Linked DNA regions of Homo sapiens. The protein of the gene in region 1 interacts with the protein of each later gene in a biochemical or structural test. Each region holds a gene or a part of one and is shown on either strand. Other genes may lie near its edges. The genes, in order: CSN2 and NEK2.

What was found.
Region 2: of the proteins of CSN2 (region 1) and NEK2, one has a biochemical effect on the other in vitro, tested with the Homo sapiens proteins (one study listed by BioGRID).

Annotation. Positions count from the first base shown.
Region 1 is NC_000004.12:69,955,662-69,959,490, reverse strand, and holds part of CSN2 (beta-casein isoform 1 precursor), read left to right. Parts: intron 1-421; coding exon 422-442; intron 443-537; coding exon 538-582; intron 583-1,686; coding exon 1,687-2,217; intron 2,218-3,135; coding exon 3,136-3,141; 3' UTR 3,142-3,177; intron 3,178-3,829. UniProt on the Homo sapiens protein: Important role in determination of the surface properties of the casein micelles.
Region 2 is NC_000001.11:211,668,905-211,672,733, forward strand, and holds part of NEK2 (serine/threonine-protein kinase Nek2), read right to left. Parts: intron 2,381-3,829; coding exon 2,298-2,380; intron 1,504-2,297; coding exon 1,377-1,503; intron 429-1,376; coding exon 209-428; intron 1-208. UniProt on the Homo sapiens protein: Protein kinase which is involved in the control of centrosome separation and bipolar spindle formation in mitotic cells and chromatin condensation in meiotic cells.

The DNA.
Region 1 (3,829 bases):
AATAGATTCTGTCTCTTCAGAAAGGTTATATGATCCTTAAGGGAAGTGTTTAACTCTTATGATTCATTTGAAGTGATCATAATGTATCAATTGTTATTAGAATATATTTTCAATGAGTATTTCTTTTTTTAAAAATCAGATGGGGTTTTAGATATCATTTGTTGTCAGGGAATGAGCATGGTGGTAGAGAGAAATTAGCATCTATTAATTGCTTTTTTTTGTACCATGTCCTTCTTGACTGCATTCATCTGACTTTCTTTTACATAACAAGCTCATATAGAACAGTTTAATACATAAGTTTAATGATTATACAAAGTTATTAATGATATTATCAAAGAATTAATGCCTTTATTTCCTGATTTATATTGCAAAGTAAGAATTGTTAAAACTAAACCTAATTTTATTTTATATTTTTCTGTAGGAATCTATTACAGAATACAAGGTAAATTTTCACATTTAAAATGTACACATTTTCAAAATTTCCTCCTTTTAATCTTTACAGATGGTAACATATCTTTATATATGATATATCTTTAGCAGAAAGTTGAGAAGGTTAAACATGAGGACCAGCAGCAAGGAGAGGTAATTTGTTAATGATAAGTATATGTTTAAAATTATTATAAAGTATAATACATACAAAAATATTTATAATGTGTATGTTGATTCTAAAGAATGATAATAAAATAAATGCCATATACCCACCAACCACTTTAAAAATTAAACATTGATAAAGTCAATATATTTTCTAGGATATGCATGCATTTTTAAACTCATAATTAATTTCTAGAATACAGACTAAATACATAATGATATTACTAATGGTATATCTGTTTTCAACAAGTACACATTGGTGGGAACATTTCCAGGTTGGGAACTATGATCCTCTTATTTCCAAGGTGGATATGGTAATGAAAAGGTGTATACGGCTGGTAAAAAAACCTATGTAAAATTTGTCCCATATTGCCTTTATTCCCATATGGACAACACAAAATCCTGTATTTCATTAAATTACATTTATGGTGATATGTTTACCCAATTATAATTTTCAATTGCTTTGTGTACCAATGAATTGTTTGGAGTCACATAAAATATTTCTAAAATCAAATTTAAACAAAAAAATTGATGTCTCTTGAAAGACTCAAGAGACTATCTTCTCCCAAGGGAAGGAATGTAAGAATTTGGCCGGTGTTAAATTACTTCCTGAGATTAGCCACAAATTAAGACTGATTTTCTTTTTCATCAAACCAAAACAAAACAAAAATAAACCTTGGAATTGTCCCTCTAAGTCTTTTTAAACTGATCTCTTTTCACTGTATGAAAACAATTTGGTCTACTATTGGCACAACTGTGTTGAAAAGTAAATTCTCTCTGAAGACCAAAGTGTACAGCTACAGCTATCCAGGCAATTCAGGAAAATGTTAAAAAAAGTGTTTCTGAAATATCCAAACATTGATTTCACTTTGGCCTGTGGAGTTACCCATGAAGTGAGTGGATTAAAATTTTTCAACAAACAGTTTACTCATTTTTCTTCGCATGACTCAAGATACTTTCTTAACCAAAATAAGTGAAATATTTTCTCCTCTCTTTTTACTCATTTATCATTGTCTAAAAGAGAGAAATGAATTCATTATGAATGGCAATTATAGCTTAATCAAGGACTCAAAGATTCTTTTTCCTTCTTTCCAGGATGAACACCAGGATAAAATCTACCCCTCTTTCCAGCCACAGCCTCTGATCTATCCATTCGTTGAACCTATCCCCTATGGTTTTCTTCCACAAAACATTCTGCCTCTTGCTCAGCCTGCTGTGGTGCTGCCTGTCCCTCAGCCTGAAATAATGGAAGTCCCTAAAGCTAAAGACACTGTCTACACTAAGGGCAGAGTGATGCCTGTCCTTAAATCTCCAACGATACCCTTTTTTGACCCTCAAATCCCAAAACTCACTGATCTTGAAAATCTGCATCTTCCTCTGCCTCTGCTCCAGCCCTTGATGCAGCAGGTCCCTCAGCCTATTCCTCAGACTCTTGCACTTCCCCCTCAGCCCCTGTGGTCTGTTCCTCAGCCCAAAGTCCTGCCTATCCCCCAGCAAGTGGTGCCCTACCCTCAGAGAGCTGTGCCTGTTCAAGCCCTTCTGCTCAACCAAGAACTTCTACTTAACCCCACCCACCAGATCTACCCTGTGACTCAGCCACTTGCCCCAGTTCATAACCCCATTAGTGTAAGTCCAAATTTACTGGCTTTGCTGTTTCATTCAAGATGTGTATGTGATGGTAGAATAAAAGAATAAATGTAGAGTAAATGAATTAAAAAAACAGTTTAGATAAGTGATTCTTTTATTATTATACTTTAAGTTTTAGGGTACATGTGCACAACATGCAGGTTAGTTACATATGTATACATGTGCCATGTTGGTGTGCTGCACCCATTAACTCGTCATTTAACATTAGGTATATCTCCTAATGCTATCCCTACCCCCTACCCCCACCCCACGACAGGTCCAGGTGTGTGATGTTCCCCTTCCTGTGTCCATGTGTTCTCATAGATAAGTGATTCTTAATGCTTACCTATACAATAGAATCACCTGGAGAACTTTTCCCCACAAATCCCAATGCCTAAGCTTACCCAGAGATTCTGATATAATTGTTCTAGTTTTTTGTGTAGAGGAAACTGAGTGTTGAGAAAAAAACTATTGCATGAATTCTGGTTTAATTAGTCTGTTGAGAATTCTGATTTAGATAAAGTAATTAAGGCTTACAAAAGCCGGAATTAAATTTAATAATATGATTGAATTTGGAAAAAAAAGCTAAAAAATGTTCTGTCATTTTCCTTGTGCACATCTCTTTTACACAAGCCTTACTTCACATCTTGTTTTTGCTATAAGTATATATGAAGGCAAAAGACTGAGATGCTTATTTCACTACTTACAACATTCTTAAGGCAAGTTTTCTTACTAAGAGGTTATTTATTTATTTATTTATTTATTTATTTTACACAAGCCTTACTTCACATCTGGTTTTTGCTGTAAATATATATGAAGGCAAAAGACGGAGATGCTTATTTCACTACTTACAACATTCTTAAGGCAAGTTTTCTTACTAAGAGGTTATTTATTTATTTGTATCTGTTTATTTTTAAGGTCTAAGAAGATTTCAAAGTTAATTTTCCCTCCTTATTTTTGGTAAGTTTTGGGAGTTTGGAGATTTAATTGATCATTTTTATACATGATGTCTTTTTACATTTAATTCTCCTAGAGAAGTCCAATACAGTGAAAATTTCATACATACAAGAACTTTTTTTATTAATTATCAATTTAATGGTTGACTATCATTTACTGACCTGAAACTATCTATCTTTTGCATTTCAAATAACTTTAATTTTATTTATGTACTATTGACAGATTTGACTGGCTTGCTTTCAAGGGCCTATATACTTACATTTGATTATCACTATTTTTAGGAAAGACAGAATATATACTTATTTTACTTTTATGGAAATACATTTGAGCTTTTGTCAAAAGCCTATTTGCATTTTTATTTCTAACCTAGCCTTCATAAAATTTGTATTTACTTTACTTAAAATTATCTTTTAATTCATGAGTTAAAATTACTCCAAGTGTAAAGGTTAAAAAGAGGAGAGAACAGCATTGCAATTCTAAGATATAAAGCCTTTTGGGATTATGAAATACCAGACATTTCACTGAAACAATTTCAAGTTCACTAATATTTGATGAACTTTGGTGAAGTTTGGTGAACAAACTTTACATGCCTCCAAACCGCAACAGAATGCATTTGCAATACAATTTCTTTTGTGAATTAGTCACACCAAAGTTA
Region 2 (3,829 bases), on another chromosome or scaffold:
TGATCTCAGAGAAAGATGTCCAACATGAAGGTGCCAGCAAGCCTGATTATTAAAAAGTCTAAAATACATATTTTGGTTTCTCAAGTATTTTTCAAAAGCTTCTAATAAGATCTGTATGTATAAAATATTCTGCTCAAAGAGATATTCAGACACATCAAAATAACCCACTTGGTAGTTCTCCTTTGCTTTGACCCCCATTCAGACTTACGCTCCAATCTTTCTTCTCTTGCTTTGAGAGCTCGCTCTCGCTCCTGTAACTGAATTTCCTTCAGTTTCAGCTCACTCAATACAGGGCTGGAATCCTGCGATTTTTCTGGCTCTCCTAATTGTCGCCCTCTTCTCTCAAGATTTCTTCTTTGCTCGTCTGCAACCAAATCTGCTATTAAAGGGTTCTCAAGAATTTCTTCAACAGAAGGTCGATGGTAATCCTGGGGAAAAAATACTCAGTATTATAGTCAGATTGCATAACAGAATAGTCCTCCTAAGACAGCAGTTAAAATAAAAGGACAAAAATGTGTTTCCAAGACAAAAGAAAGGACTCCTTTATGGCTAGGTCTTAAAAACTTGGAAAAATAAGTTCACTGGTGGTTTTAACTCATGAGGTTCTGGGTCCACAAGGTAATGCAGATGTTAACTTACCTTTTTTCCCTTTTCCCCTTTTCACCTTTCTAAGAAGGTTCAATCCCTGAAGATTGGCACATCTTGTGCTGGGGCTTGGTAGCATTGCTAGGGTCTGTTTTAGGGGAAGTACTGCCCTTGCATTTCTAAACTACATTTAGCAAGATACTCTCTCACTGACTCTCAATCCTGTCACTTCATCTGTATCCTTCTCTGTGATCCTACGGCATTTTCCTTCTTCTCTTATGTCAGCCTGGTCCCCAGAACATCTCCTTCCCCATTCTATAGCCAGAGTTTTTCCACATAATCTCTTTATTGATTTTCCCTCTGTTTTTAGCTGTCCTCCGTCCGCCCTCCATCACCCCTCCCCTTCTTCTGGTCTTTAATCTCTCAATTAGAGCTAGAGGCAGAGTAATAAACTCTTATTTCTGGCCCCTTCCCTCACTACCTGCCACTGTGAGGTAGGCAAGGACAAGGGGAACGAGAATTTGAATTCTTTTTGCAATCTTTCCTTGCTACCGACCATCTGTTAGCATGACAGAGTGGGAGGAGAAATAAAGAAAGCGCAGAAGGTGGGCCAGCAAGGATGTGCAATTTGCCAAATTTACATATGTTTTCACTTGTGTTAACACAGTAAATTTAGCTAAGAAAGTATATTTAACGTTTCTTCAGTCTCCATTGATCTACAAGAGAGAATGTATGCTCTGACACTTAACTGACAGCTAGAAACAGACAATATATCATCTTATCATCTTTACCTTTAAGTTTAACATCCTCGTAATAATTTCATTCAATTCATCAGAGTAACGGTATGGAATTCGCCTGAATTTGCCTTCTCTGATTTTCCCAGCGAGTTCTTTCTGGCTAAAAGCTGTAAATGGAGGCCTAGGGTTAAAAAAGAAGAAGAAGACGACGAAGACATTTTCAAATTGTAAAAATGAAAATATACAATAGGAACTAAATCAAAAGCACAGCTTAAGCTCCAGTTTGTATTTAAGTTTCTACTTCTGGGATTTTCTTCTTATAAGTAAGTTTCCCAACCTTGGCACTATTGACATTTGAGGTCATATAATTCTTTGTTGTGGGGGGCTGTCCTGTGCATTATAGGTATTTTGTAGCCTCCCTGCCCTCTACCCTCTAGATGCCAGAAGCACTCCCCAGCTGTGATAACTAAAAATTTATCCAAACATCATCAAATGCCCCATAAGAGGCAAATTTGCTTCCCTTATCCCTAGTTGAGAATCACTGCTCTACAGAATAGTTTCAAAGGGAAAGAAAATGAAAAGAAGAACAAAGGAAAAGAATTGGAGCTCTTCCCTGCTCTACAGATCCCCAGACCTCTACCCGAGTCTTGTTTCATTTCTTCCACATCCTTACAGTAGCTTTACCTTACCTGCCTGACCTATGTGCTCTCCCTTGAGCTAAGTGTCAATCTAATAAGAAAGCACCTAACCAGCCAAGACCCTTGAACAGTCAAGACCCAGCCTCATGGCTTATAGTTTTAATTTGTGAATAGTTTCTTTTAGCCTGTTCATCTATCTACCTTAATTTTACCCAGGGTACAATTCTTTCAGACTTGAATATACTTTCGTTAGCACAGAGGCTCAAAAAACTGAACCCAGTGAAATGTGACAAACAGTACAAACCTTAGACTAGGAATCTGTCTTCATCATACTTACATTAATGCACATAACTCATACAGCAAGCAGCCCAATGACCAGATATCTGATTTCTCATTGTAGGACATGCGATTCATTTGTTCCTATACAGGGAAAAAGGGTAAGAAAGTGGAAGGTGTTAAGAGTTTATTTTGTTTTGAAACTTAAAAAACACATTAAATTACTCCTGAGATAAAAACAGAACCTCAAAGTTTTTAGCTTATACTTTATCTTGAAATTTATAATGGAAAAAAGGCAATGATCTTGTTCCAATACACTCCATCATACATAATTCATTCACTCATTTTCCATTCACAAATGAAAGTGCTTAGTATAGACTAGGCACTGACAATACAGAGGTGAATATGAGAGACTTCTACTCTCAAGGCAAATTAAGAAACACCATTTTAAAAGAACTAGAGGAAATTTAAGAATAGTCAAAATATGTATCTAGTCCACATTTAAATGGATATAGACATAAATAGCTAATTGAATTATCCATTTATATTTTGTCTTAGTCCACTCCATAAATCACAGTAGTAACTAATATTATCCTTACCTATTTTATTGTTTGCCTTTCTTCCACATCTACAGTAACAACAGCCTACCAGAGCTCCTATTCTCAACAGAGGGAATAGAAGCAATCTCTAGTGGCTGGTTAGTGTTTTAAAGTCCAACTGGTGAGTCTGATGCCACTTTTTGACAATCAGTGCCTTAGGAAAGCTGAACCACTCTAATTACAAGGGCAGGAGGGAAAAGGAACAAAAGAATAGGTTTCAAATTTCCCAAGAACCACTTCTGGATAATTGTCCTTTATGTTAAAAACATTCTATTTGGAATTTGATACAGTGAGAAAATGGTACTGTTCTGGCTATTTTTAGTCAAAACCAAAATCATTAATTTACAAAGTTTTATACTATAGTAAGATCTGTTAACATAATTTATAAATATTTGGAAAATCCTAGAAAGGTGAACTACTAAAATACTAACAAATATTTCTTCATCTTTATCTGTTCAGATGTTATATACTAACACATTAGTGCTATCACAATTGACTTAAACTTTTTAAAAGCCATCAGACAATATCTAATAACAGCCATAAACATTTACCCCAGCAATTTCATTTTATGAGCTACACTCCAAGGAAATAACCAAAAAGGAAGAAAGAATAATTCATACAAAGATATGCAGAGCAGTACTTCTAAGAATGGTGAAACATGTTGGAAACAAAATATCCAGCAATAGAGGTAATTGGTGAGTGGACTCAGCAAGATATTTCAGGGATAGGCAACAAAAAAATAAAATGTACAAAAAGTTAACATTGTAAAAACATGCTATCTGAAGTGAGCAAACTTCCTGAGCTCTGATTCTGCATACACAAGAATCATTTACAGAGCCTCTTAAATGCAAAGTCTAAAATAAAAAGTAAAATATTAAAAAAAAAAAAAAACAGAGTTCAAGAACCCACCCAGAGATCGAAATTCACTCGATGGATTTGGGTTTGGGTTTGGGACCCAGAACTCTGCATTTTAAACAAACACTCCAAGTGAGTC